Linked DNA regions of Homo sapiens: region 1 is linked to region 2. Evidence: fine-mapped expression QTL. A gene starts in region 2. The other region holds a variant in brackets. All regions are shown on one strand. Distances are between the middles of the regions. Region 1 overlaps SARAF (store-operated calcium entry associated regulatory factor). Region 2 holds the start of SARAF (store-operated calcium entry associated regulatory factor).

Evidence for each region. PIP is the estimated chance that this variant, and not a neighbour inherited with it, causes the effect.
Region 1: its variant is fine-mapped to the expression of SARAF in whole blood (TOPMed, PIP above 0.99).

What each region holds. Positions count from the first base shown.
Region 1 is chr8:30,049,438-30,064,803 of GRCh38, forward strand. It overlaps SARAF (store-operated calcium entry associated regulatory factor), which reads right to left. Exons shown (of 6, transcript NM_016127.6): 6 at 13,566-14,476. The coding sequence ends at 14,451. Among named protein-coding and RNA genes, the nearest start is that of SARAF, 26 kb to the right of the region's middle. RefSeq lists an enhancer at 7,503-8,702. The variant A/G (reference allele first, on the strand shown) is at 12,306.
Region 2 is chr8:30,076,264-30,092,863 of GRCh38, forward strand. SARAF (store-operated calcium entry associated regulatory factor) reads right to left here and starts at 6,801. Exons shown (of 6, transcript NM_016127.6): 1 at 6,584-6,801. The coding sequence starts at 6,686. RefSeq lists enhancers at 193-242, 6,365-6,714 and a silencer at 6,755-7,124.

The DNA of each region.
Region 1 (15,366 bases), 27 kb before region 2:
GGCCAACATGGTGAAACTCTGTCTCTACTAAAAATACAAAATTTAGCCGGACATCGTGGCCATGGATGTGGGGGACGACACTGCCATTCCAACACCAGCTTCCAGAAATCATCAAGTGAAAGGTAATAATAAGTAATAAGTAATTAATTAAATAAGAAAAGAAAATAATTGACTTACCATTATGTTTACCATCATGCTTATGCATCCAACAATAAAGACAGTACAGTAAACAATATTCCCAATCTGCTTGTTGTCATGATGCTTTAATAGGTCCCGGATTCAAAAGACTTCATTCTCCCAGTAAGACATCCTACTTGCAAAGACTTTCCTAAATATCATGGTTTGGGTTTTTGTTTTTGTTTTTGTTTTTGTTTTTTTTATTGAAATAGAGTCTCACTCTGTTGCCCAAGCTGGAGTGCAGTGGCGTGATCTTGGCTCATTGCAACATCTGCCTTCCAGGTTCAAGCAATTCTCCTGCCTCAGCCTCCTGAGTAGCTGGGATTACAGGCGCCCACCATCACGTCCGGCTAATTTTTGTATTTTTAGTAGAGACAGGGTTTCACCATGTTGGCCAGGCTGGTCTCGAACTCCTGACCTTAAATGATCCGCCCACCTCAACCTCCCAAAGTGCTGGGATTACGGTTGTGAGCCACCATGCCCAGCCTAAATATCATGGTTTTGAATAAGCACAGTGTCAATTTCTCTAATTTGTGTCATCATTCCACATATAGGGTGGGCTGTTGTATAAGGTGAAGAAAATTGATGTATGATCCATTGGTTACTCATTCATTCAATATGTGTTGAATACCTAGTATGAGACAGGCACTGTTGCGAACAATATGGACATAGTATAGAACAAGATAGACAAAAATCCCTGTCCTTGTGGAATTTATATTCTAGAAAGAGGGGGTAGGAAAAGTAATAATAAAGTAAATTATATAGTAAGTCAGAAGATAAGGGTTATAGGAGAAAATAGAACAGAATAAGGGAAATCCAAAGTCCTAGGGCAGAAATGGGGAAGTGAAATTATCATTAGAGTGGTTTGGTTTCCTTACTGCTGTTCACCAAATACATATGGTTTTTGATCTCCAGGCTTATACTAGGATTGTACTTCCCTATCATATTAAAGTTAAGTACAGCCATAGGACTTGTTTTGGCCAATGGAATGTGAGCAGAAATGATGTGTGTGATTTCTGGACAGAAGCTTTAAGTATAGTGTGTGATTCTCCACATGCCTCTCCCACTGCTGCATGCCATAGGAAGCTTCACTTGGCCAGAATTCCTGAATAACATCATGAGCCAAAGCCCCTGCCAACCTGTGTTAGACACTTGGTGTGAGCTACATATTAAGCTAATGAGATTTTTGGTCTTGTTTGTTACTGCAGCATAACCCGACCTATCCTAACTGATGCAAGTTGTCAGGGTAGACCCCACTAAGACAGCAAATGATAGTGGCTTGAACCTGAGTGACAATAGCAGAAGAGATGAGAAGTCATCAGAATCTGGAAATATTTTGCTGTATGGAAAAGAGTTAAGTCCTATATGATTGAAAATGTGAGACCAGTTACAGCAGACTACATTGATTCTAATAGTATGTCAGAGACATTTTGTGTAAAAAGGGGAAATATACTTGTGTAAAAAGGGGAAGGGTTCTAGGGGCAATCTTTTATGGTCTGGTGACAATCTGGAAGGAAATAAATAATCTATCTAGCAGGTTTACAACAGCATAAGCAACCTACTAAATATTAGGAGATTTTACTGTCCGCAATGAGATTTCTGACTTGTATAGTGGAGCATTATTGCCCTCTAGTGATAAAAGAGAAAATGTACTTAGAGAAAAGGAAAGTGACAACCAATGATTCTGGGAAACACTCAATTCGAAATTTGGGGTATTCTTTGGGCCATGACTGGTTGCTTTCTAACAACTTTTGACTGGGAGACACCATGAGCAATTGTATATCTGAGAAGATAAAATCTGGCATTGCTTTTCAAAGTTATCCATAATTTTCAAAAAAGTGAGAATCCTGAATCCGTGTTGGTTAAGGTGCCAGGATTATTGTAAGTATAAGAATTAGTAGTGATATCTACTACACAAATATTTTATTGTCTTCCATAAAAGATAGGGACAAGTAAGGGGATGAAGATTAATGTGTGTAACTGATAATTCCTGAACTTGGTGTTCTTTGTTTTGCTTTGTTTTTTTAACCAGTTGCACAAATGAGGAACGGTGAGAGACTTCCTGTTAGTAATTCAGTGAAATAGTAGTTAGTGAAATAGAGTGGCATTTTTTTTGTCACTTTCATAAGCTCAATATGAAGTAGTAGAGAGATGTAGCTTCCCAAAAGGCTGCAATCATGAAATGTTTATCCAAAAGAAAGTAATATATCCATTGAACTTCATATAATTATGCTGGAACAACCAGTATAATTTATTTAATCAAGATACAAATATTGTTGCATCTCTTATTTTACTTAACTAAACCAAGCAGAATCCCAATACTTTGGATAAGTTGGAGGTATAATTTCTTTCAAGGGACTTCTCTTCTTCTGCCCACTTATTCAAGAATCCCAGGATGTTGTCCAGAATGGATGAACATATTTCTGAAATGCCTTCTGGAGAGCAATCCAGAGGATCCAATCCATCACCAGCAGACCTAACTTTCAGCTACCATTGTTGTTGCCACATTATGAATACTGGTCTTTCCCAGTCTGGTATATTCTTTTCCACTGTTCTTTTCCATCCATATTCCTATGCAGGTCACAGTGGTGTCCTCCTCCCTCACTTCCCAGGTAATAGCTCTCCAGGTTAAAACCACATATGCAGACATTCTTCCCAACACACTCATTGTGCCCTTGTGGATCCAGGACAATTCCAGTTCCAGACATAGCCACAAGCTAACCCAGAACCCACTTTTTCCCAAGACTATGTAGAATCGGGTAATAACCCAGAATTCCCGGTCTTCACTCATCCTTCTCTCCCCTAAGAGCTGCCTCTAACCATCCAAAAGGTACTATTTATGAGGAAGTCCAAAAGAGATGTGTGAGAGATACTGCATACTCTTCCAGTAGCCACCTGGGTTTCCATGAAAATGTACTTCTGCTTAAGCAAACTTTCATCTCTGCATATTTTAAAAAGCAGCCTTCATCAAGCCCTTTTTAAAAGGCTTTGTTGTACATTTCCCCAAGAGCAATAGATGTCTGCTTACCCTATCTTTACTTATGAACCACAAAGAACAAAGAAGATCCGCTTTGGAATGACTCACTTTATCCTCCCATGCAGGAAGATCAAAGGCCAAGTTTAAATGGCAGCTTCTCTGACATCCATATCTTAATTACAGTCTGGGTGCCACATTTAAGCATAAATCTTATTCTAGAAATATATCTTATAAATCTAAACACATGTACATTAAAGATCTAAACTATAATAAAGTCTCTGACTCCAGTGTTTGGAGCAGCTACAACATAAACTCATGTACAAAAGATATGTTCGGATGTTCATTATTGCATTGTTGAAAATAGGGAACAAAATTGAAAATGTGGTAAATGTATATTGATATTGATAAAGGAATGGTGAGATTAAATTATAATATATCCATATGATGGAATACTATGCAGCTGTGAAAAGAATAGATTTATTCTTTGTGAAAAAATTCTGGACATTGTGTATAATTTCTATAATAATAACCAAAAAATGTTAACAGAAATTATTTCTAGGTAGAGAGACCACACTGAGAGGATGAAACGAAGGGGGCCGTGGGGAGTTGGGCAGATATAGACTTTTTTCTTTTTGGAGACAGGGTCTTGCTCTGTCGTGACTGACACGGTCATAGCTCATTGCAGCCTCAGACTCCTGGGCTCAAGTGATCCTCCTACCTCAGCCCCCTGAGTAGCTGAGATTACAGGCATGTGCCACCATGCCTAGCCAGATACAGACTCTTTCTTTTCTCTTTATATCCTTCTAAACTGTTCGAATGTTTTACAAAGAACTTGCATTGCTTTTCTTTTTTCAATTATGAAATATGCATATTTTAACTTATATATAGTTGTGAATGATTTATCTATATAATTTAATTAAATATAATTTAACTTGATAAATACTCATAATTTTGAATATTTTAATGTAAGGAAGAAATGTGTCTTTTCTCCTTTAATAAGGAAAGATTGTGCTGGGGATTTAAAAAACAAAAAACAACAACAACAAAAAAAAACATGATCAAACCTAGGTAGATGACCAGATGGTGGAGGATCCAAAAGCTAGGTAAAGTAAGAAATGATTGAGAGTGTTTTGGATTTTTAACTTGAATAAAAAATAGAGCTGTCTTCAAATATCTACAGTAAGGGAATTCCACTTTTATGTTTGTGAGGGCAAGATGATTTGAACCAATCCTATCACACACGGAAACTAACAAAACTGAGCAAAATATGAAAAGACATCTTCCCGAAGGCATCACAGAGCTAGCAAAATCATGAAGATTTACTATTTCTGGATCCAGGGAAGACAGGAACTCCTATAAATTATGTGGGCATTATTCCCATCCTGCCCTTCATCCACTAGAAAATGATTTACTTAGAAACAATGTGAAACATTGTGATACACAATAAGGCATTCTGTAAATCTACATATCATGGTTTCAACAACAGCCTTTCGAGTGGGAAGGGCCAATCCAAACCCAGAGTAAATGTCTACTTCAGTGACAACAAATCATTGCCCCTTTCATGATAGAAGTGGTCTCATGTAATCAACATGCCACCAGATGGTGGGCTGATTTCCCCAGGGAATTGAACCGTATTCAGGGTTCAGTGTTGGCCTCTGCCGTTGGGAGATAGGGCACTCAGCAGCGGTTGTAACCTGATCGGTTTTGGTGAATGGAAGACCCTTTTGCTGAATCGATGGATAACTTTCATCCCTACCACCTTAGCCACTTTGTTTATGAGCCAATGAAACAGGAGTAGGGCTTGCTGAAAAAAAGAGGCTGAATAATAGCCACAGAAAATGTCATCTTATGAAGTGACTTAAGATGCAACGTTCTGTCGGGGACATGAACTACTTACTGATCCTAATACTCTGAGTGGATGGTTTCCTGAGGGATGATGGCTTCCTGCTTGGATGTGATGATGCCTATAGTAAGCAAGGTGGAGATGCCAGAATTTCTGTGATATTCTACTACTCAGGTAGTTGTAAGCATGTATATTGGACAAAAAAAAAAAATCTCATCTTTGTTAAGAGAGGACCATACATCTACATTTCCCCCAGATATCCTTATCAATTTTTCTTTCTTTTTTTTTTTTTTTTTGGAGACAGAGTCTCGTTCTGTCACCCAGGCTGGAGTGCAGTGGCACGATCTCATCTCACTGCAACCTCTGCCTCCTGGGTTCAAGTGATTCTTCTGCCTCAGCCTCTCGAGTAGCTGGGACTACAGGTGTGTGCCACCACGCCTGGCTAATTTTTTGTATTTTTAATAGAGACAGGGTTTCACTGTGTTAGCCAGGACGGTCTCGATCTCCTGACTTTGTGATTTGCCTGCCTCAGCCTCCCAAAGTGCTGGGATTACAGGCGTGAGCCACTGCGCCCAGCCTAATTTTTGTATTTTTAGTAGAGATGGGGTTTTACCATGTTGGCCAGGCTAGTCTCTAATGCCTGACCTCAGATGATTCGCCCACCTCGGCCTCCCAAAGTGCTGGGATTACAGGCATGAGCCAGCTTGCCCAGCTTTATCGTCAATTTTTCAGTCTCATTTTTCCAAGCCCCTGGTCACCCATTCAAACCAGAAACCACTGTCTATTTTGAAAAGTGTAGATACATATGTCTTGCCATCTCTTATTTCAGATGCATAGCTCAAAATTCCACCCCCTCAGGGCACTTCCCTTCACTGTCCTTCCAGGTGGTATCAGCATATCATGCAGATCCATTTGTAAATCAGGCTACTCTTGACTTGCTGTCCTGTATGGAATTCCATCCACCTTGGTTGGCTCTGACAATGAAGAGATGCAATTTGCCACTTCGGAAACCCACTATCTCTGTTAATCTTGGGAAGTCCATTTTCATGACAGCATTTCCCACTATTAACCTTTGCCTACAGAGGACAACTATCATTGAGCCCTTAAAAATGCTAATAACTCTCTCACCAGTACCTTCCTTACTACCTTGGTAAAGGGAGATGCTCTGAACCCTCAGAGTAGAGTCAAATGTTGGATTATTCAGTCTCATAAGTAAATTCTAACATCCCACTTCCTTGAGTCTTCAGATACTGTGCTCAATACTATACCATAGAAAGTCTGGCATCTCTACCTCACTTACGGTAGGCATCATCACATCCAATCAGGAAACCATCATCATCCATCAAGAAACCATCCCAGAAAATTATTAGAACCAGTAGCTCATGTCTTTGACAGAACATTGAATCCCAATTCACAGGTGAACATAAAGGACTTCTCTTTCCACCATATTTCACCCCTCCCACAGCCCAACTTCCAGATGAATTTCCACATGGTTTATCCCTACTCTCGCTGGTACATATTAGCTGTATGGTACCATGATTTTTTTAGTATGTGACCTATTTCCTCCCAAGGCAAGTGCTATAATTCCAAGAGGTTATCATTCTTTTGCTGTGTGGCTTATTTCCTCCCAAAGCAGGGACTGTCTTTCCCTGTTAAGGTTGAGATCTGACTCTAGTTATTGGCCTGGAGGCAGAGATGTGGCAGGACTCAGTTTTAAGAAAAAATGCTATCTTACAAGGCATCTGCTTCAGGTGAGGCCGTTACATGGTCTCTAGACAAGGAAGGCTAATCCCCTTCAGCAAGAAGGAAGGGGCTGCTATGCCAGAAAGAAAGACTTAGGAAGATGTCGATGTTCAAGTTCTTCTGATTCCTTGAACAGTCCAATTCCAAAATTCCATCCTGTACAACTTTCACACCAATTGTCTTAACACAAGTCCTCTAGAAAGCAGAACTCAAGCAAAAAAAAAGAAAAACATTTCTGGCACTTGGACAGAAGCATGTCCAAAGACACAGGGTGAGGGAAAAAAGTGAGACAAATAAAGATGTGATGCAATGGCATGCAATGGATTGCGGCACTGCTTCACAATGAGCTACAGACACACAGTAGGTCGCTTTGCAGGCAGGTTCACTCTGCACAAAGGACTTCTCCAGAAGAGTTGCAAAAAGAAAACACATCTTGCAGTAATCCCTGAAAAGATAGGAATTTATTTCCCATTGGTCATTGCTCATTCCATTGAGCTAATTCCCTAAACAACTGAGTTGCACCATCTGGGCTCCCGGCAGCCACACAGGAAACCATATTCCACACCTTGCAATGTGTCGTCTTATTCAAATCTCAAAGTGGAGGGGTGACCTGGTGTGGGTGTGACACCAACCACGTGAAAGGAGAAGGCAGTTAAGAGCCTCTGAGAAGGTGTACAAGTGGTGCTGATATAGTGGATTTGGAAGTTCCAGTGCACAAGGAAGGAATGCTTCCACCAGGAAACACTGTCACGATGAATTGGAAACCTGAGACTGTCCTTGGACAGTTTGGGCTCCTCATGCTACTGAACAAATGGACAAAGTAAGGGGCCACTCTAACAGGTAATTCATCCTAATTATCAAGGGAAAATTAGGTTGCTGGCCAGGCGCGGTGGCTCATGCCTGTAATCCCAGCACTTTGGGAGGCCAAGACGGGCGGATCACTTGAATTCAGGCGTTCATGACCAGCCTGGCCAACATGGTGAAACCCCGTCTCTACTAAAAATACAAAAATTAGCCAGGCATGGTGATGGGCACCTGTAATCCTAGCTACCCTGGAGACTGAGGCAGGTGAATCACTTGAACCCAGGAGGCAGAGTTTGCAGTGAGCCAAGATCACACCACTGCACTAAAGCCTGGGCAACAGAGCAAGACTATTCTGAAAAAAGAAAAAAAAATGAATATTAAAATGACTCTTGAGCTTGCCCAATAACCTGGACCTATCACAGAGCCTTCTTTTGTTCTAGGCTCCTGTTAAAACTAGCAGCTTTGCGATCAGTCAGTAAATGGACTAGAGTTGCATACCACATAAGGAATATGTTGCCCGCAAGATCCACTAGGTATTGCATCATTTTTTTCATCTGGAGCCAGATGTAACGATTTATCCTTGGCCTTAGAAAGATATTTCAACATGTCCCATACTACTGGACTCCTAGAAATTTCCCTGAGGTAGAAAGCCCCTGAATCTTTGTCAGATTTGTTTCCCACCCTCTAACATACAAATGCCTTACCAATACATCTACAGTAGTTGCTACTTCTTGGTAGTTGCTCTTCTTGCTCATCAGATCCAATCAGCTTAATATAATAAATGTCATGGACCAGTGTGAAGTCTTGTGGAAGGGAAAGGTAACCAAGGTCCTTGCAGACTAAATTATGACATAGGACTGAAAAGTGAAGGTGTATTGCTGGCCCTGCCAGCTGAAAGCAAGCTGCTTCTGATGGTGTGTACTAACAGGTATGGAGGAAAAGCATTTGCCAGAGCACTTGTGTTTCAACTACCAGATATGTTCATGTACCCAAGTGATGAAACTACATCTGGAACAGCAGTTGCAATTGAAGTCACCATCTGGGTAAGTTTATGACAACCTATTATTACTCTCTATCCGTTTTCGGCACAGGCCAAATAGGCGAGTTGAATGGGGATGTGGTAGGAAGCACCAGCCCTATATCCTTCAAGTCCTTGATGGTGGCATTAATCTCTGTAATCCCTCCAGAAAGGCAGAACTTACTATCTCACGGTTCTAGAGGCTGTGAGTCTGATATCCAGGTGGTAGCAGGGCCATGCTCCCTCTGTATGTGCTGAGGAAGGATCTGTTCCAGGCCTGACTCTCAGCTTCTGGTGGTTTGCTGGTAATCTTTGGCATATATTGGCTTTTGGCAGAACTCCAGACATTACATGATTATTTCTGTTTGTGTGTCTGTGTCCAAATTTCCTCATTTTATAATGACATGAATCATTGGTGTTCACTCTACTCCAGTATAACCTCATCGTAATTTCATCTGCAGTAACCCTGTTATGGTTTGGATGTTTGTCCCCTCCAAATCCCACATTGAATGTGATTCCCAATGTTGCAGGTGGGGCCTGGTGGGAGGTGTTGGGAGCATACAGGAGGATTCCCTCATGAATGGTTTAGCACCATCCCCCTCGTGATGAATGAGTTCTTGCTCAGTTAGTTCACACAATATCTGGTTGTTTAAAAGTCTGGGACCTGGCCAGGTGCGGTAGCTCACACCTGTAATCCCAGCACTTTGGGAGGCCAAGGCAGGAGGGTCACTTGAGGCCAGGAGTTCAGCCAACATGGTAAAACCCTGCCTCTATTAAAAAAAAATACAAAAATTAGCCACGTGTGGTGGCACACACCTGTAATCCCAGGTACTCAGGAGGCTGATGCAGGAGAATCACTTGAACCCACGATGCAGAGGTGAGGTGAGGCAGTGAGCCAAGATCACACCACTGCAGTCCAGCCTGGGTGACAGAGCAAGACTCTGTCTCAAAAAAAATCAGTCAATCAATCTGGGACCTCCCTCCCTCGCTCTCTCTTGCTCCCACTCTCACCATGTGACGCACCTGTTCCCTGCACCTTCCACCATGATGGGAAGCTTCCCAAGGCATCACCAGGAGCAGATGCCGGCACCATGCTTCCTGTACAGCCTGCACAACTGTGAGCCAATTAAACCTCTTTATAAATTACTTGGTCTCCGGTATTCCTTTATAGCAACACAAATGGACTAACATAGACTCTATTTCCAAATAAGATCACATTCTGAGGCACAGAGCTCAGGCACTTTCTGTGTCCCTCCATTTCACCCCATTTCCTCACTCCAACTCTCCCTAGTCGCCTTCATCTCTAACTTGGATGTTCTTCCAATTGGGATTCCCCACAAGTCCTCTCAGCCCCTTTAATCAAGTGTCCATATCACAGCCACTATTGGTTTATCATTTTTGTAGATAGAGGTAGTTCTAGTGACTTTCACTTGGCCTATGCCACCATAACAGCCTTCATTCCACAGGTCAGGGACCCAACGTAGAGATTCTGCTAGTTGCTGAGTATGTCTATTCTAATCCTGCATTCTAGAACGCAGGTTCCATTCCTGTGTAATAATCACAGGATCATTCGAGGGACCCATGGGACTCACTGTGAAATTGATCTGAGCTAAAACTCTATAAGCTCTTACTCTGACTGGTGGACCACAGTAATGTTTTGAGCCTCCTGGAATTAGCATCAATTCAGTGTCCAGTAATCCCTAAACTATCTGATTATTTTCCCTTTCCCCAGGGCATAGTTACCCCAGTAAATAGCCACGGGTCCATTGAGGGAAGACTGGGGGAAAGATAAACAATATAAACCTGGCAATGTGGTAGGGTTCTTCCTCAAGGGGAACCCAGCCTCTCCTTCATTGAAGGGATTCTGGAGCTATAAACCAGCTCAAGTCTAGGAAATGATTCAGAGGCTATGACTCACTTGTGGTGACTTAAGATAGACTTCTGTTGGCTGGGCACAGTGGCTCACACCTATAATCCCAGCACTTTGGGAGGCCGAGGCGGGCGGATCACCTGAGGTCAGGAGTTTGAGACCAGCCTGGCCAACTTGGTGAAACCCTGTCTCTACTAAAAATACAAAAATTAGCCAGGCATGGTGGCAGGCGCCTGTAATCCCAGCTACTCGGGAGGGTGAGGCAGGAGAATTGCTTGAACCTGGGAGGCAGAGGTTGCAGTGAGCCGAGATCATGCCCCTGCTCTCTCCAGCCTGGGTGACAGAGTGAGACTTGGTCTCAAAAAAAAAAAAAAAAAAAAAAAAAAGACTTCCGTTTACTCAGCCTAGAACTCTTCCACATACATAAATCAAATAAGAATTTAGTAGACTGCCATCTATTTCTTCCATAGGTACACAATGATCAACCAGCCAATGCCATAGGTCTCTGAGTCAGACAATTCTTGTTAATTTTTGTTTCATAAAATTTTTTGTAGAGATAGAGTCTCACTATATTGCCCAGGCTGGTCTCAAACTCCTGGCCTCAAGCAATCCTCCTGCCTCTGCCTCCCAAAGTTCTGGGATTACAGTCATGTGCCAGTGTTCCTGGCCTGAGTCCAACAATTCTGATGGCTGCTTTGACTCTGCTGCCCATTACAGCATAACCATGCCACGCTATCTTTGCTGATTGTCACCATTTGGCCCCTGCTACCCTGGGATCAAATTAACCCCACTGCCTCTAGGGGTCCCAGTTTGATGGTAGCAGTTCCCACTGTACATTCTGACCTACAAAGAAGAGAAACCAAATTTGTGGGCCTCCTTCTCAAAAATCTATTTCTCACCATCATGGTGAAAAGTGTATTCTCTTGACTCCTCCAGGGTGGGTGGGTGGGGCTTATATGATAAATCCACCCTAACATTCCAATCTCCCTGAGCCTTTGAATCCCTTCCTCCACAGTACACTGAGGCAGTTCTGGCATTTTGACTTTAGTGTAGGCCATCTTCGAGTCCATGTTCAGCAAACCAACTAAACTGTTAAGAGTCCTTTCTAACCTCTCAAATATTGAATCCAGAATCTCTGCTGAGTGGGCCAATATCAATAAAGTTGTCCTGACTGAACTTTACAGTCCTACCACCATATCCTACACTCTAAGATCCATTCCCACACATATTCCCCAGATTTCTATCTGTATAGACTGGGAAAATCATGGAGTCCTTTTGGTGTGCAGGGTACCTCCTCATGGATCATAATTTGTACCTCACTCTTTGGTGCCTACTGGAACGTGAGTCTAGCTGTACATCTAGGAGCAAAGCAGGTAGCAAGGGCAGACCCTGAGGCAGATGAGTGATGCCTGGTAACGAACACCTCTGAAGAGACCATTACAGATCCTTCAGGCAAAGTAGGATTAACCTTCTCAGACAGAAGTAGAAGGGCTGCTTCTACCGGCAAGAAATACTACGCAGAATTTAGGGGTTCCATTTCACTGGCTTCATCAGGATCCTTTCTTATGTCCCCATTCCACTTTTCAGGATCCCACTGCTTCTCAATCAATGCTCTCACCTTATTTTTTTAAGAGACAAGGTCTCACCCTGTTGCCCAGGCTGGAATGCAATGGCAAAATCACAGCTCACTGCAGCCTTAATCTCCCGAGCTCAAGTGATCCTCCCACCTTAGCCTCTGGAGTAGCCAGGACTACAGGTGCATACCACCATGCCCAGCTAATTAAAATAATAATCTGTAGAGATGAAATCTTGCTATGTTGCCCAGGCTTGTCTCGAACTCCTGGACTTAAGCAATCCTCCTGCCTTAGACTGT[A/G]CTATCTTATTATTCTAAGTTTTACATTTGGGGAAGTGATACATGTGAACCTTTTCCATAGACAACAAAGGGCCGGGAGTAGTGGTTCATGCCTGTAATCCCAGCACTTGGGGAGGCCATGGTGGGAGGACTGTTTGAGGCCAGGAGTTCGAAACTAGCCTGAGCAACATAGTGAAACACCATCTCTACCAAAAAAAAAAAAAAAAAAAAAAAGTTCTTAAATGACAAGGAAGTACAAATACACAACAGATAAAAGAGGAACACTCAGGTGGGGCTTGAAACCTATACTCTGCCTCTTTTCCTCCCTTCCCTCCAGGGACCCTCTAAAGAACCTCATAAGAACACCACTAGGGCTCCCCAGAGTAATCTAAAAGCCACCAAGTCAACTCTTTTTTTTTAAAGCTATCGCCTACAGGAAGAACAGTCAACTCTCTTTACATTAACTCATTATTTTCTTACAATCCCAATGATCTGCAGTACTATGTTCAAAAACAATCTGAGTAAGCCGGGCGCGGTGGCTCACGTGTGTAATCCCAGCACTTTGGGAGGCTGAGGCAGGTGGAACACCTGAGGTCAGGAGTTCGAGACCAGCCTGGCCAACACAGTGAAACCCCATCTCTACTAAAAATACAAAAACTTAGCTGGGCTTGGTGACAGGAGCCTGTAATCCCAACTACTCAGGAGGCTGAGGCAGGAGAATTGCTTGAACCCAGGAGGAGGAGGTTGCAGTGAGCCGAGATCATGCCACTGCACTCCAGCCTGGTGACAGAACGAGAGACTCTGTCTCAAAAAAAAAAAAAAAGCAACAAACTACATTCTCTTTTATTCCATATCCTTCTACTAAGGAGAAATGGGGTAAGGATTTAGTGGGATATACATAAAGTAAAGCTGTGTTTCTTCTATCAGTTAAAATTTCTACTGTTTTACTGATGAAAAGAGGATAGTTTTATTATGCAATAGTCTTAATAAGGGTTTGTTTTAAATTGGTTCTTATTGGTTGGTGAAAAGTAACTGCAGTTTTAAATGGCAAAAATCATTAAACACATAAGATATAAAACTGGGGCTTTGAGGTTATGAAGCTTAACTAAGTGTAACCATGCAATCTCTGATGGGTTGGGAGGCTTGGAGATTTAATTATTTTTTTCAAACGCTATTTTTTGGCAGAGGCTTCCACACCATTTGTAAATTACTTTTTGAAAACATTTACCAAAAGACTAAGGTACGACTACCACATAAAATTACTGTTTAGGGAGACAGAACTTCTGCATGAACTTTCCCCTTTGGGAAAAAGGGTTTAAAAAAACAAAAAGTAACATTTATTTGCGCCTAGGCTAATAGAAAGAATGAGACTAAACCCCTTGTTTGTTTTTATTGATTCTTTTTAAGATTGAAACAGACTATTACAACAATATTTGAGATTTCACAGAGAACTGCATGCTTTTGTTATTAAAAGACTTTTGTTGAAAAATTTGACCTTTACCTCTTATGAACGAAAGAAATATAGAGGTTTCAAGCATTTTTGCCAGCACAGAGTCATTCACAACAACCTTCTAGATGCTTATTTTCTACCTTTTCCTACAGAAGGTAATATTCAGTTACCAGAAGGCCATCTCCACCACTGAATGATTCAAAGCTTCAGAGCTCAAAAGTGATCAGAACTCACAAATTAGCATAATTAGTCCAAAGCTTGATTTAAATGTTTGAAGAACAGCAAACATCAAATAATATAATACCAAATAGAATATTATAGTCTCTATGAGGTAATAACTCATCAGCTACAACCACCTAAAACTGAAATTTTCTGTACTTAGTTTCTATTAGTACAACACCTTCATTCTTAATGCTTCTTAGGGCATCACAGGTTTTAGAAATTAATGTATTTTTAGCATTCCACAGTAATGATCACTTTCAAAAACTGCAATATACATCTGCATGTTACACTGACATACAACACATAAGTATTTTGTCACACATCAACTTTTAGCCTCAAATAATAGAATACAAAAAGCTACACTGGACATAACACCACAGAACTTTTGAATATCCCCTTTTCCCAATTGTTAACAGGTAGTACTTTTTTTCTAAAGAGAAAGTGATGAAAAATCCAAAATTTCTGCATCCAGTGTTTGACTCCAACTTTCTACTTTATCGTCTCCTGGTACCACCATATCCTAGAATGAGAGGGGTAAAATTTACATTAGTTTTTAAAAATGCATTAGAATTGCTTATAAAATTACAAGTCATACATGTTTATTGTCAGCAAATGAATGAGATAGGAGGAAAGGAAAGAGTGTGCCACTAGGTGGAACTGGGCTAAGCAGGACAGTGCATCGCCTCCCACAGCAACCTTCCCAATCATCAAGCCTACTACACTCACACATGGTTGCTGGGAATGACAGTTAGGACCCCAAAAAAGAGAATGCATTCTATAGTGGGGCCACCATGGTACAGGCAATACTCAAAGTCTAAGCCAAAAAGACAGAGGCCAGTGGCGCATAAGCCATGCCCTGCTACCTCTCACAACTCCAGTGGTAAGAGACGTAATGTGGGGAGGGTTACGGACTTTAGATGCTTAAACGTTACTTAAGACACTGTGCGCACACACACAGGCTACAGGATGACAAATCTTCCTATCTAGAAAGTCTCTCAATTATTTTCAGGTTTACATTATTTGGTTTTTATGATTTTCTTTCATATAATTCCCATACATTTCTAGTTCATAGTCATGATTTTATGCAAGTCTTCTTTCCACTGAGAATGAATATTTTTCTGTCATGATGTCTTACCTAGCCATATATATATATATATATATATATATATTTTTTTTTTTTTTTTTTGAGACAGAGTTTTGCTCTTGTTGCCCAGGCTGGAGTGCAATGGTGCAATCTCGGCTCACTGCAACTTCTGCCTCCCGCGTTCAAGCGATTCTCCTGCCTCACCCTCCCAAATAGCTGGGATTACAGGCATGTGCCACTACACCCAGCTAATTTTTGTATTTTTAGCAGACATGGGGTTTCACCATGTTGGGCAGGCTAGTCTCGAACTCCTGACCTCAGGTGAT
Region 2 (16,600 bases):
GTGTGCACTCTGACTGCTGAAAGCACAGTTCTCCTTCCCCACATGGTGCACAAAATGCTAACAGCCATCCCCTTGTCCTCTGTGGGAGACTGGATGACTATTCCCTTGGTAATCTAACCAAGAAGAAGTACCTAAATACACTGACATCAGGAACTTCCTCCAAAAAAGAGCAACCTAGGTCACCCTGTTGTGAAGTTCAAAATCAAAAGTGCAACTGCACACTGATAGCTTCCAATGAGCTTTTTGGTTCCCCAGAATTAACCATGAGCAGGGAGCCAAGGATTACTAAAAATATGAGGAAAGTCCCTGCTATGGTTTGAATGTGTCCCCCAAAGTTCACATGTTGGAAACTTAATCCCCAATGCAACAGTGTTGAAAGATGGAATCTTTAAGAGGGCTCTGCCCTCATGAATAGATTAATGCTGTTCTTGCAGGACTGGGTTAGTTATCGCAGGAGTGGACTCCTGATAAAAGGATGAGTTAGGCCCCTTTCCCCTCTCTCACTCTCTCCCTTCTGCCTTCCACCATGGGATGACACAGCAAGAAGGCCCTCACCAGATGCTAGCACCTTAATATTGAACTTCTCAGCCTCCAGAACTGTGAGAAATGAATTCAGTTTTTTAATAAATTTCCCAGTCTGTGGTATTGTGTTACAGTAACATTAAACAGACAAAACAGCCCCTAACATGAAATACAGCAACCAGGACAAAACAACAACAAAAGGAAGCAGGAGGAAAAAAGAGATGACGCACAAGAAGAAAACTTTTTTAAAAACACTGTAATATCCTCAGAGAGATAAGAGAAAAAGACTGCGTTAATAAAACAATCATTTTTAAAAGGGATACTCAGAGAAAAAACAAGAGCTTTTGGAAATTAAAAACAGGACAGCCAAGATTAAAAACAACAGAACTGCCAGGTGCAGTGGCTCATGCCTGTAATCCCAGCACTTTGGGAGGCCAAGGCAAGCAGATCACTTGAGCCCAAGAGTTTAAGACCAGCCTAAGCAACATGGCAAAACCCTGTCTCTACAAAAAAAATTATAACATTAGCCAGGTATGGTGGCACACACCTGCAGTCCCAGCTACTTAGAAGGCTGAGGTGGGAGAATCACCTGAGCCTGGGGAGGTCGAGGCTGCAGTGAGCCATGCACTCCAGCCTGGGTGATAGAGTGAGACCCTGTCACAAAACATAAATAAATAAATACATACATACGACAGAACTGTTAAAAGAAAATCTTCTAGAAAGTAGAGCAAAAAGAGGCCGGGCGTGGTGGCTCATGCCTGTAATCCTAGCACTTTGGGAGGCCGAGGCAGGTGGATCACGAGGTCAAGAGATCAAGACCATCCTGGCGAACACGGTGAAACCCCGGCTCTACTAAAAATACAAAAATTAGCTGGGGATGGTGGCGCGTGCCTGTAGTCCCAGCTACTCGGGGGGCTGAGGCAGGAGAATTGCTTAAACCCAGGAAGCAGAGGTTGCAGTGAGCCAAGATTGTGCCACTGCACTCCAGCCTGGCGATAGAGCAAGGCTCCATCTGAAAAAAAAAGGAAAAAGAAAAAAGAAAGTAGAGCAAAAAGATAGAAAGTAGGAGAGAAAGGCTGGGCACAGTGGCTCACGTGTGTAATCCCAGCACTTTGGGTGGCCGAGGCAGGCAGATCACAAGGTCAGGAGTTCGAGACCAGTCTGGCAAATATGGTGAAACCCCGTCTCTACTAAAAATACAAAAATTAGCCAGGCATGGTGGCGGGCACCTGTAATCCCAGCTACTCAGGAAGATGAGACAGGAGAATCGCTTGAACCCGGGAAGCAGAGGTTGCAGCGAGCCGAGATGGTGCCACTGCACTCCAGCCTGGGGGACAGAGCTAGACTCCGTCTCAAAAAAAAAAAAAAGAAAGAAAGAAAAAAGACAGTAGGAGGAAAAAAAAAAAAAAGAAAGAAAGAAAATTACCAGTTCAGGACCAGTTCAGAAAGTCCAAAAATCCAACAAGGGCTTCTGAAAGAATGAACAAGGGAATCTGATTAGACAAACTCCAGGCTGTAATTCAAGAAAAGTTCCCACACTGAAGGACTTGAGTTGTCATACTGAAAGGGCCCAACAAATACCCAGGCCTGAGAAACAGACCACACAAAGGCACACGAAAAGTAAATTTTAGAACACTGAAGACAAAAAAAGATTCTACAAATTGCCAGAAGAATAGGGAGAAAACAAGCCATATAGAAAAGATAAGACTTAGAAAAGCTTCAGGTATCTCAACAGGATAGAAAAAGAAAATGGAGAAATATATTCAAAAACTCTAAAGGAAAAAGTCTGGCTGGGTTTGCCAACCATCGCTTTGCTAATGGTGGAACAAACTGATGTTACAACATCTCCTATGATGTATTTCCCACAAGTATTTAATATGAATCTAATCAATCTAATAAACTTAAGGTCAATACCCTATCTATATAAAAAATATATATAGAGAGAGAGACCTAAATATACTTCCAACCAGGAACCCAATAGGGTTTTTTGGGGAAAGAAATTATGTTAAAGGTCCTGTGGACAATTTTTTTTTGAAAAAGAACACATAGGTTACCAGATAGTAAAGGTTACTATAAAATTATTATCATCAGCCAGGCACGGTGGCTCACGTCTGTAACCCCAGCACTTTGGGAGGCCAAGGAGGGCAGATCACCTAAGGTCAGGAGTTCGAGATCAGCCTGGACAACATGGTGAAACCCCATCTCTACTAATAATACAAAAATTAGCTGGACGTGGTGGCATACGCCCGTAGTCCCAGCTACTTGGGAGGCTGAGGCAGGAGAATCACTTGAATCCAGGAGGTGGAGGTTGCAGTGAGCTGATATTGCTACCACTGCACTCCAGCCTGGGCGACAAGAGTGAAACTCCATCTCAAAAAAAAAAAAAAAAAAAAAGATTATAATCAAAATAGTAGGGAATTGGAACAGAGACAAGGAAATTGTGAAACAAAAGAAAGATCAGAAATAAATCAAGATACATTTGGGAATTCAGTAAGATGAAGTGGTCTTTTTAATTTAGTGGATAAAAGATGTCTTCTTTAATAAATAGCACTGGCATAATTGACTATGCAGCCACAAGAAAATCCACCTAAAGCTATATAAAAATTTAATTCCACATGGGCTACAGATCTAAAATTTCCAAGAACTATATTCAAATAAACCATGCTACATTAAACACAAACTACTACCTCCTCATACATAAAAAATAAGACAATGAAAATGTTCAATGGTTTAGAAAAATCAGACTGTATTAATCAACTAAATAACAGAAATAATAAATTGAATTTATTGTAACAGAGTTGCAATAATGCAAAGAACACTGAACTAAGTTGGTGTCACTAACTGGCTGTGACTTTGGCCAAGGCATTTAATTTACCTGTGTAGAAGTTTCCTCACCTACAAAATTAAAATATTATCAACCTTGAAATTTGTTGTGAAGCTTAGATATAATTTATTATCTGGCTGAGTACTTGAAGCATAACAGGTGATCAGGTATGATAAATATTACTGAAAGTTTTAAGATGGAATAGCATTACCATAATCCTATAGCATCTTTCTTCCCTAGAGATTCTTAAGGTCCAAGAACAAAATTCTAATACCCACGCCCCACTAGTTAGATCAGTCAAGGGACACAGGAGCTCCCTGAACTCCAGACTCATAAATCAAAATCACGGCAGGTCTCAAACAAGATAAACAAAACCAAACTCCCCTAAACCTGATCATCCCACATTCTTCCACATCTCAGGAAATGGTTAACTCCATGCTTCTAGTTGCTCAAGCCAAAAACCTTGGACTTCTCATCTTCTCTCCTCTCACTCCTACATCTGATCCTTCAGAAGATCATGTTAGCTCCACCTTCCAAACAGGTGACAAGAGAATCCAGCTACTCTAACCAGCTCTCTACTGCTCCTGCCCTGGGCCAAGCGGTCACCACTCTAAGAACTTACTGTACAATATTAAAATAGATAGCAATATATATTAATTCACTGGTTTCCCTGCTTCCCTCCTACCCTCTTCGGTCTGTTTTCCACAGAGCAGCCCAAATGAGCCTTTAAAGATATAAGTAATTTCAGGTCATTTACTCCTCCTCCCCACTTCAGGTTTCCAGTCAAATGTCACCCTAACAGTGACTTCCCTGACCAATGTACGTTTTTTAAGTCTCCACTTCTGCCCGCACACCATGTCCTCCTTACGCTGTTTATCATACACGGTGCATACCAATTTTCACAATATAGCATGTTATTTACATGTTTATCTGTTTATTGTCTATTTCTCCCCAATAGAGGTAAAGTCCTTGGAGGCAAGACACTGTTTTGTTCACTGCTATATTCCCAACACCCGGAAGAGTAACTTAATATAAGATTACATTCAATAAGGAATTTTGAAAATTCATTGGTAATCTCTTTAGAATGGTGCTAATTTTTTTTTCCAGACAAATTACTGCTCAATGTGAGCTAAAGTAATGGCATCCAAGTCAAACAAAAGATAAATTAGGGAGCCGATTAATGCTTTAGTAAAGGACTTAATAAATAGTATGTCAATAAAGTATCTTCATTTAAAAAGTTCCTCAAAGTGCCGGGTGCGGTGGCTCACGCCTGTAATCCCAGCACTTTGGGAGGCCAAGGCGGGCGGATCACCTGAGGTTGGGAGTTCAAGACCAGCCTGACCAACATGGAGAAACCCTGTCTCTACTAAAAATACAAAATTTGCCGGGCATGGTGGCACATGCCTGTAATCCCAGCTACTCGGGAGGCTGAGGCAGGAAAATCGCTTGAACCCAGGAGGCAGAGGTTGCGGTGAGCCAAGATCGCGCCATTGCACTCTAGCCTGGGCGACAAGAGTGAAACTGTCTCAAAAAAACAAAACAAAACAAAAAAGTTCCTCAAAGTAAACTTTGAAGTAGAATTTACATAAAACAATTGAGTTTACTCTGCAAAATATTGTGGTGCTTTGTGTTCCAGAACAATAGTTTTACAGCGTAGATAAACCAGGAAGTGGTTCATCTTTAATTTAAATTTGGTTCTTCTTTCATAGTTTTTATAGTTCTTCTGGCTCTTCAACTGTAAACTTCCTTTATTAAATTTATTTACGAACTGATTCAAAGTTCAACAAATTAAAGTTTCATTCTAGGTTTTCACTTGTAATTCTGATCAAGTCTCCCACTCATACACAGCTTTCTAGAAATACAAAAGAAAAACGTACAGACATTTAAATACAACTTGGCTTTTTATTTTTGGTAATAAAATGTCCACATCAAATGACTACTCAACGTGATGTGCTTGCAAATAGCACCTTCTCTCTCATTTCAGCATGTAAGAATAGGCTATTATAGAAATAAACCTGTTGCTTAAATTCGACAATGCAGGCATTTCCAATCACCAAATCACAAAGGCAATATGCTTTCCATGCCATCTTTACTTCGCAAAGCAAAAATGATGTTGTTTTCATTTTTTTTTTTTTTTACAGAATTCCAAAGTAACAGCATGCGTCATTTATTACATGGAAAAAGTCAAAATCTGTATCTAAGTATATAGACATATACGTATTAATTGCACGGAATATTACTGATCCCATGAAAATTCTTTAGACAATTTTAATACTGTACTGACATAAAAGAACCTCTTTCCTAAAACCCACTTATCATGTACCATCACTAAAAAAAACCGAGAAAATTATTTTTTAAATTCTTCTCTACGGTGAAAGCCAATGGGAAGAGCTGGTGCCGCGCGATGTACATCACTGCAATCGTCAGATAAGAGGCAGCGGTTCTCATAAAGACGCGGTGGCTCACGCCTGTAATCCCAGCACTTTGGGAGGATGAAGGCGGGTGGATCACGAGGTCAGGAGGTCGAGACCAGCCTGGCCAACATAGTAAAACCCCGTCTCTACTAAAAATACAAAAAAATAGCCAGGCATGGTGGTGGGCACCCGTAATCTCAGCTACCGGTGAGGCCGAGGCAGGAGAATCTCTTGAACCCAGGAGGCGGAGGTTGCAGTGAGCCGAGATCACGTCATTGCAGTGCGGCCGGGGCGACAATGTGAGACTCCGACTCAAAAAAAAAAAAAAGAGTGCAATCTGCGATTCTGCTAACAGACCTGCGAGGTCTGCAGCCCTGTCCGCTAAGGGTGACTCAGAGACTGCCAGTGGCAGGCAACGGCCGGCGATAGCAACAGGCAGCCATGACAACAGCAGGCCACGATGACATCACACAGCCATAACAACAAAGCAGATGCGCAGGTGAGTGTCCAGCTCTCCAGTTATACTCAGAGATGAGAAAGACGACAATGGGCAAATTCCGGGAGTCCGGGGCAGGGAGAAAGGGGACCTTAAGGATCTCCAGCCGTCCCGCCCCGCCCACTCGAGCAGTCCCTACCCGCCTCCCAAGACGCCTGGGAAGAGCAGTGGAACCAGGGAGAGCACGAACAGCAAAGAGGTCAGACATGGGGAATCCGGGCACCCAGGCTCCGGGAAGACGGCGCACGGAAACGCAGGGGAGCCTGCACCGGCTGACGGCGGCGGAAAAGGGCGAACGAAGCGCCTGAGGGCCCTGGCAGCACTCACCAGGGTCGTTCCAGCCCAGGGCAGGGCCCGCGGTCAGCAGAAACAAATGCAAGCCGAGGAGCAAGCAGTACCCGGCCGCTCCCGGCCCGCAGGCTGCGGCCATGGCGCTCGATGAAGATGGCGCCGGGCTGCCAGACGCCTACGGGCCGAACCTGGGTGCGGTAGCGCGCGCGACGCTGCGCAGCTACACCGCTACCCCTGGCGGCGGCGAAGGAACGGCCCGACTGCAGAGCTGCAGCCGCAACGGATCCGTGCGCCAACCCTACGTCACTGCCGCTGCGGCCCGTGGGGCTCAGTGAGTGGCCGCCGTGGGCCCCCGCCCCTGGAGCACAGCGCGGCTTGGGGCGGGGCGAGGCGGTGTGGGCGGGGCCAAGGGCCTGGGGAGGCACGGCTGGAGGCGGGTTGGAGGCGTGGCGCCGCGGTGTGGGCGGGGCCGAGGGCCTGTCGCCGCCGCGCCCGCGGGCGGGGCGAGGGCAGCGCGCAGCTTTGTTGTGTCTCGTCTGAGATTCGGGAAGCTTCTGTGCGTAGGCGATGCAGTTTGAGAGGCTGAAAACGTCACGACGCGAAATCTAAGAAATGTAGTCAAATTATGTATTATTAAAACCTCAATAATTGTACCAAGGGTAGTTCTGTGCTTTATTCAGCTCTATGTGTTCAGCACTTAGCATAGCGCTTGGTACATGGTTAGTGTTCTATGACTGGTTGCTAAATACAGAGAAGATTCAAGCGAAAAGTAACAGGGAAATACATTGTCTGGTTTCAAGGCTCAGAACCTTTACATGGTTCCTTGCGCATGGAGGCCGGAAGACTATAAAATGTCAAGAGGAGAAAATATCGTCTGAATGAAGAACCAGCCAGAGAAAACAGTTCTCTGGGCTTTTGAGGTCTAGCAGGCTTGGGTTTCTTTCATTCATTCATTCATTCATTCATTCATTCATTCATTCAATGAATATATGTTGAATACCTAATACGCACCAGGCACTGTTTTAGGCATGGATGGTACAGACAAGATCCCTGTACTCATTGAAATAGAATAGGACAAACGACATACCAATTAAACAACAAAAATAATAGGTAATGATAGGTAATAACATTGATGAAAAACAGGGTGATATAATGGAGCCTGGGGACACAACTTCAGGGAGGGCCTTGCTGAGGAAGTGGTTTTTGAAGCTTGGGACCTGAATGATGAGAAAGAACTAGCCGTACAAAGATCAGGGGACTCATCTTCCCATCTGGGGAACAGTGGATGCAAAAGCCCTAACTTTGTGTTTCGAGGAAGAGTTATTTGGTCAGATCCTATAAAGAGTTCAGTCCCACAAGATGGCCCCAACTTCAGACATCAATCACAAGTCTCAGGTTGTGACCTATGCTTCTGACCAACCAGCTATAAATTAGGGTTTCCAGGCCGGGCGTGGTGGCTCATGCCTGTAATCCCAGCATTTTGGAAGGCCAAGGCAGGTGAATCGCCTGAGGTCAGGACTTTAAGACCAGCCTGGCCAGCATGGCAAAACCCCACCTCTACTAAAAATAGGAAAAATAGCTGGGCGTGGTGGTGCACACCTGTAATCCCAGCTATTTGGGAGGCTGAGGCAAGAGAATCGCTTGAACCTGGGAGGCGAAAGTTGCAGTGAGTCAAGACTGCCCCACTGCACCTGGACCATGGAGAGAGACTCCCTCTCAACAAATAAATTGGGGTTTTCATAACCCCCCATCTTGAGTTCCATAATTTGCTAGAATGGCTCACAGAACTCAAAAAAACACTTTATGTTTACCAGATTATTATATTGAGCACCTATTAGTACCTAACAGTACCTGCCAGGCACTGTTATCAGTATTGGGGATACAGCAGTGAATAAAACAAAATTTGGGGGACAAGAGGCAAACAAGGCCATAACTGAAGCAAAGTAAGTTAGGGGAAGAGTGGAATAAGAGATGGCAGAGCAGTGGGGCCTCGGCATGGAACCAACCAATGCTGGGACCAAGGACTGAAATAAGAGATAATAGAGAATCTATGCTCAACATGTTAAGTTTGAGGTGACTATTAGGCATCCAGGTAGACGTGTCAAATAAATAGATAAACTGTAAAAGTCTGAAGTTCAAAACTAAGGTAAATTTGGTAGTTATGTTGTAAATATAAAGATAGCATTTAATGTCATGATGCTATTGTTTGAATGTGTCCCCCAAAGCTCATGTGTTGGAAACTTATTCCCCAAAGCAATAGTGTTGAGAGGGGGGACTCTTAAGGGGTGATTAGGTTATGAGGGCAGAGCTCTTAATGCTATTATCACAGGAGTGGGTTAGTTATTGGGGAGTGGGTTCCCGATAAAAGGGATGAGTTCAGCTCCCTTTCTCTTTTGCCTACCACCGTGAAATGACACAGCAGGAAGCTCCCCACCAGATGCAGGCCCCTGGACCTAGGATTTCCCAGCCTCCAGAACCATAAGAAATAAATCTCTATACTTTATAAATTTCCCAGTCTCAGGTATTCTGTTATAGCAACACAAAATGAACTAAGACATGTGGGAAGAGACACAGTAACATGAGAGAATTGAGATACCACAAAAAAGGAGGCCCAGGCTATGGAAACACTAACATTTGAACCTCAAGCAGAAGATTCTAGAAAGAATCTGAGAAGTAACCTCTGGTGAAGAAGGAGGAAGAACTAGGACAATAGGATATGGTAATTGAGAGAAAGAAAGAATGGTCAACAGTGTCCACTGTTGCTGAAAGCTTGAAGCAAAATTTGGTCTCTGAATTTTGCAATGTAGAAATCACTAATTACCTTAACAAGAGAATGTTTGTTATTTTAGATTCCCACCATGTACCATGTACAGTTCTGGACAGTCATGAACAAAAGATGAAAGGTTGTTATAATAAACATTCTAGTGGGAGAGGTAGCCAACAAATCATGTCATTTCAAATAAATAAGTGCTTTGGGCCAGGCACGGTGGCTCACACCTGTAATCTCAGCACTCTGGGAAGCCGAGGCTCAGGATCACTTGAGACCAGGAGTTTGAGGCCAATCTGGGCAACATAGTAAGACCCCATCTCCACAAAAAATTGTTTTTAAAAAATTAGCCAGATGTGGCCAGGCACAGTGGCTCACGCCTGTAATCCCAGCACTTTGGGAGGCCGAGGTAGGCAGATCATGAAGTCAGGAGATCGAGACCATCTTGGCTAACACAGTGAAACCCCGTCTCTACTAAAAATACAAAAAATTAGCTGGGCATGGTGGCGGGTGCCTAAGTCCCAGCTACTCAGGAGGCTGAGGCAGGAGAATGGTGTGAACCCGAGAGGCGGAGCTTGCAGTGAGCCAAGATCGCACCACTGCACTCCAGCCTGGGCGAAAGAGTGAGACTCCGTCTCAAAAAAAAAAAAAAAATAGCCAGATGTGGTGGCATGTGCCTGTAGTCCCAGCCACTCAAGAGGCTGAGGTGGGAGGATCACTTGAGCCCTGGAGGTTGAGGCTGCAGCAAGCCATGACTGCATCACTGCACTCCAGCCTGGGCAACAGAGCAAGACTCTATCTCAAATAATAATAAGTACCTTGAAGAAGAAAACAGAGCAATATGACAGGTAGTGCCATAACAAGTAGGATGGCCCAGAAAAGATTCTCTGAGAAATTACCATTTGAGCTGAGAGCTAAATGATGAGGCTGTAAAAGGAAAAAACAAACTGTTTTCTCCTTTCTACTGGCACAAAACACAGAGCAGTTCTGTGACCAGAAGAGGGGCTGGGGGAGTATTTCCCTACACACCAACCAACTCTAAAGGACATCAACACGATGTCCTATAACTCAATTCAAGTTAAGGGCCCAGTCTCCCACAAGACTGCCCCAATTCAGACGTCAGTCCAGGAAAATATTTTATGTTTACCAGTTTATTGTAAAGGATTTATAAAGGATACAGATGAACAGCCAGATGAAGAGATGGATAGGGCAAAGATAAGAAGGCCATGGGGCTTCCATGCCCTCGCTGGGCACTCCACCCTCCCAGCACCTCCCTGTATTCAGCAACCTAGAAGCTCATGAAATCTTGTTGTCTAAGAGTTTGTATAGAGCTTAATCTCCAGCCACCCGCCCCCGATCTCTCCTGTTGGTTGGTGGGTGGGCTGAAATTTCCAACCCTCTAACACTCTAATCACATGGTCTTTCTGGTGACTGACTTTTTGGTGTCTGTAAACAATACAGTATAACAACTATTTACATAGTATTTACATTGTTATTAGGTATTATAAATAATTTAGAGATTATTTAAAGTATACAGGAGGGGCTGGGTGCGGTGGCTAACACCTGTAATCCCAGCACTTTTGGAGGCCCGAGGTGGGTGTATCACTTGAGCCCAGGAGTTCGAGACCAGCCTGGGCAACGTAAGAAGACCTTGTCTCTACAAAAAAAAAAAAAAAAAAAAATTAGCCAGGCATAGTGGTGCATGCCCGTGGTCCCAGCTACTCGGGAGGCTGAGGCAGGAGGATAGCTTGAGCCTGGGAGGCAGAGGTTACAATGAGCCGAAATCACACCACTGCACTCCAGCCTGGGTGACAAGAGTGAGACCCTGACCCAAAAAAAGATTTTTTTTCCTCTGAGCTTTCTCTGAATCAACCTGTAAGAGTTAGTAATTCTCAGTTTACAAAATTGTGAAGAGGATTAAATGAGATGAATGCTAAAGCACCAGGCAAATAGCACCTGCTGAAAAAGTAAGAATTCCCTTCCTCTCATCCACATTCTCATCTCCACCATTTAACTTTGGAGAATGGAAAACCATCCATATAAGAAGTATTGAAACTGAAAGGTAACACTAATTAGCTATTACATAACAATAGAGAACATTTAAAGGATATGACATTAACTAGCATTTAGGGTTCCCTTGGAAAACTGGTGGAGAAAACTGACATTCTACCTTTTTTCCGACAATGACTTTCAAGCTTTGCTTTAGTTTGCACAGGAATTGTTTGAGATTCTTGTTAACTTTTCAGATTCCGGGCTTTACCCACAAGAGTTCTAAATTCAGAAGGTCGGGAGTAGCAGTCAAGAATTTGGAAGGCATCCCAAAGTATTCTGCTTTAGGTGGTCCTTGAAATACAACATTTAGACACACTGTTTTTAAGGTCTCAAGTGACTGTGAGAGGTGACAACGTGCTAGCAGCCCTCGCTCACTCTCGGCGCCTCCTCAGCCAGGACGTCCGCTCTGGCCGCGCTGGAGGAGCCCTTCAGCCTGCCGCTGCGCTGTGGGGGTCCCTCTCTGGGGCTGGCCGAGGCCGGAGCCGGCTCCCTCCTCTCCCGGAGAAGTGTGGAGGGAGAGGCGCGGGCGGAACCCGGGGCTGCGCCCGGCGCTCACCGCTCGCGGGCCGGCGCAGGTTCCGGGTGGGCGCGGGCTCCACGGGCCCAGCACTCAGCGCAGCTGGCCGGCGCCTGCTGGGCTTGATCAGAGGCTGGGTCCCGTGCGTGCACCGCCATTCCCTCTTCGCAGGGTCGTTGGCCAGAATGGCGGGTCTCCCTCTCTTTCTCGCTTCCCCTCTTTTCCTCTTGGTTGTCTGGGACAAGCTCCTTCTGGGCTACTGGAGCACCCGGGGTAAGTGCCGCAAAATCCCGCGAAGAGCGCCAGTGAGAGGTGAAGCCGGCTAGGCTTCTGGGACCGGTGGGGACTTGGAGAGCTTTCTGTCTAGTTAAAGGGCTGTAAATGCACCAATCAGCACTCTGTGTCTAGCTAAAGGTTTGTAAACACAACAATCAGCCTCTGTGTCTAGCTAATCGGGTGGGGACTTGGAGAACTTTTGTGTCTAGCTAAAGGATTGTAAACGCACCAATCAGCACTCTGTGTAGCTAAAGGTTTGTAAATGCACCAATCAGCACTCTGTCAAAACGGACCAATCAGCTCTCTGTAAAATGGACCAATCAGCAGGATGTGGGTGGGGCCAGATAAGGGAATAAAGAAAGGCCACCAGAGCAGCAGCGGCAATCCGCTGGGGTCCCCTTCCTGGGTGTGGAAGCTTTCTTATTTTGCTTTTTGCAATAAATGCTGCTGCTGCTCACTGTTTGGATTTGTGCTGCCTTTATGAGCTGTAACACTCATAGCGAAGGTCTGCGGCTTCATTCCTGAAGCCAGCGAGACCACGAACCCACTGGGAAGAACAAACAATTCCAGACGGGAGGAACGAATAGCTTTGGACGCGCCACCTTTAAGAGCTGTAACACTCACTGCGAAGGTCTGTGGCTTCACTCCTGAAGTCAGCGAGACCACGAACCCACCAGAAGGAAGAAACTCCGGACATGTCCGAACATCAGAAGGAACAAATTCCGGACCCACCGTCTTTAAGAACTGTAACACTCACCGTGAGGGTCCACAGCTTCATTCTTGAAGTCAGTGAAACCAAGAACCCACCAATTCCGGACACAACTGGTCCCTAGACCAGTAAACCAAAAATGGTCCTTAGAGTGATGAGTGTTTTTGTGCTGGAAACACTGAATCTCATGGGAAAGATAAGGAGCACAATCTCTCAGGATTCTGTGACCATGGAAGAAAAGAATGTAGATTCCTGTAACCTGATGAGTAATCCCAGTTGCCCATGAATGTTGTCAAGGACATCTGTAATGCCAACACATTTGTACTGAAAAGAGCAAATCAGGCTGGGGGTAGTGGCTTACACCTGTGATCCCAGCCCTTTGGGAGGCCAAAGTGGGAGGATCTCTTGAGTCCCAGAGTTCAAAACTAGCCTGGACAACATGGCAAAACCCCGCCTCTACAAAAAGTAAAAAATTAGCGGGCCATGGTGGTGCATATCTGTGGTCCCAGCTACTCGGGAGGCTGAGGCAGGAGGATAGCTTGAGCCCTGGAGGTGGAGGCTGCCATGACAGGAAGCTACCATGACTGTGATTGCTCCACTGCACTGCAGCCTGGGCAACAGGATAAAACCCTGCCTCAAAAAAAAAAAAAAAGGGAAATTTATCTTTGTAGCTATCTTATCCTACATAAGATAGCTACAAAGATAAAAATAATAATAAAAATAAATGAAAAAAATAAAGCTACATACCTACCTCACAATTTGCCCACAAGGATATTCCTTGTGGACAAAGGACAGAGAGAACTCAAAGTCATCCTTTGCTCACTGTGAGACAAATGCTTATCTGATTGCTTCCTTTGCCCTGTTTTTTCACTAACCCAGACTAAAGCATAAGTGACTATACCTGTAAATTGTGTATTCAGTGAAAGGCTAATCAGAAACTCAGAAGAGGCCAGACATGGTGGCTCATGCCTATAATCCTAGCACTTTGGGAGGCCGAGGCAAGTGGATCACTTGAGCTTAGGAGTTCAAGACCAGCTTGGCCAACATGGTTAAACCCGTCTCTAACTAAAAATACGAAAATTAGCCAGGTGTGGTGGCACATGCCTGTAATCCCAGCTACTTGGGAAGCTGAAGCAGGAGAATCACTTGAATCCAGAAGACAGATGGTGCCACAGCACTCCAGCCTCAAAAAAAAGAACAAAAAAATTAGCCACGTGTGGTGGTGGGCACCTGTAATCTCAGCTATTCGGGAGGCTGAGGCAGGAGAATTGCTCGAGCCCAGAAGTTGAAGGTTGCAGTGAGCCGAGATCGCACCACTGTACTCCAGCCTGCAGCTTGGGTGACAGAGTGAGACTTGGTCTCAAAAAAAAGAAAGGAAGAAAAAGAAACTCAAAATAAGGCAACCATTTGTCTCTTATCTACCTATGACCTGGACACCCCCTCCCCACTTTGAGTTGTCCCGCCTTTGCAGACCGAACCAATGTACACCTTATATACAGTTATTGATGTCTCATGTCTCCCTAAAATGTATAACACCAAGCTGTGCCCCAACCACTTTGGACACAGGTCATCAAGACCTGCTGAGGCGTGTCAAGGGTGCGTCTTCAACCCTGGCAAAATAAACTTTCTAAATTGACTGAGACCTGTCTCACATATTGTGGGTTCACAGAACAAAACAAGAAAAGGTGTTGTGGTAGGTGACATGTGGGATGGAATTATTCACTTCTCCAGGAATTCCACCTATCCATTCAAGATGGCTGGGGAGAAGGACGTATATGCCTGCTTCAGTAGTTTAGAGAAAGGAGCTGGTGGCTCACAGATTCCGTGTAAACAGCGTGTATTTCCATGGCATATGTTCAAGTGTGCCTTGTGGTTTTGTTACCACATCCTTAAATGGAAACTTTTTTCATGATACAGGAAAGAGATGGTAGATCTTTCTGCACTAACTTGAACAGAAAAAAATTCTACTCTCCTACAAAACACCCATAGACTCATTTGGTGCATTAAGACTCAAGAAGTGACCTGTTTGTTGTTGTTGTTGTTGTTGTTTAAATTGTAATTCAACTCTAGAAATAGTAGAGAGAAGCGAAGTGGGTAATGCCTCAAGCTTCCCATTTGCTCTCATTTTAAAGCATATTGGAAATATCTCTTCTAAACATTCACTCCACAGTCTTACATGCCACTTTATGTTAGTCTGATGACTGAAAAAAAGTTAAAAATTCAAATCGTACGTAGCTCACCCCCACCTACTTCCTTTTAAAACCTTCAAAAGATTTTTATTGCTCAGAGAGAAAACCCAAAACTGCTTGTGTACGTCCCTACTATATAAGCATGCTGCCCCACCCCAACCTTGACCAACCCCATTGGCCACCTCTCTTTTCTCCAAGGGACCAAGCAAGTTCCTTGCTCCATTTGCTGCCAAAGCTCCTAACTCCCCACCACACATACATACATGCGCGCACGCAAACACACAAACACACAAAAACACAACACACAAAACACACACAAACACACATGCACAAACACACGCACACACACAAACATGCATACACACGCAAACGTGCACAAACACGCAAACACATGCAGGCACACACAAACACGCCCACAACACAGACACGCACGCACACAAACACACATGCACGCACAAACGCATACACAGACACGCACACAAACGCACGCACAGACAAACGCACACACACAACACCCAAACACGCACAAGGACGCACACACACGCACACACAAATACCCATGCACACGCAAACACGTACACAAACACATACACACAAACACGCACAAACACATGCATGCACACACACATGCAGGCACACACAAACACAAACACGCACACACACAAACACACGCAAACACACACACACAAACAACACACCCCGCCACCTGCGATGGCTTTTCCGTTCTCTATTAACACATTTATTCATCACTGTGTTGTCTCTCCTTGGGGGAAATTTTCCTTGGCAGATCGCAATCAAAAGTTTTCAGAGAACTATTTACCCATCTTTCCTAGTGTAGGAAAGGATAAAAACTTTCTTTACCCTCCTAGGTTCAGAAGCTGAGAACTGTGAATTAAACTAACAAAGTACAGATTACCAGGAAAAAAAAAAAGGTTTATTTTGCATGCACAAGGAGGCTTCACAGAAAAGAAGTGAAAACTCAAAAAGTAATTAGGCCTGGGAGCATGTATCATTTTAACAAAGGGTGATGCATTGTGGAAAAGTAGACAAAGGAAAGGTTTTGGACTTCTAGGGGCAGTAGATTTTAAGAAGGTAAATATATAGGGGAAAACTAATGAAAGATAAGGGCTATTTTAGTAATGTTTTCACAGACTCCAATAAATGCTGTTTACTGGGGCATAGGAGTTGCATCCTCTCCCTGGTCTGGGAAATGTAAATATTTATAAGTAGAAAAATTTGTTTACACATTTTTTGGGGGCCAGGCGCAGTGGCTCACACCTGTAATTTCAGCACTCTGGGAGGCCCAGGTGGGCCGATCACTTGAAGCCAGGAGTTCAAGACCAGCCTGGCCAACATGGTGAAACCCTGTCTCTACCTAAAAATACAAAAATTAGCCAGGCATTGTGGCTCATGACTGTAATCCCAGCTACTTGGGAGGCTGAGGCAGGAAAATCACTTTAACCAAGAGGCAGAGGTTGCAGTGGGCTGAGATCACACCACTGCACTCCAGCCTGGGCGATAGAGCAAGACTGAAAGTTAGCTG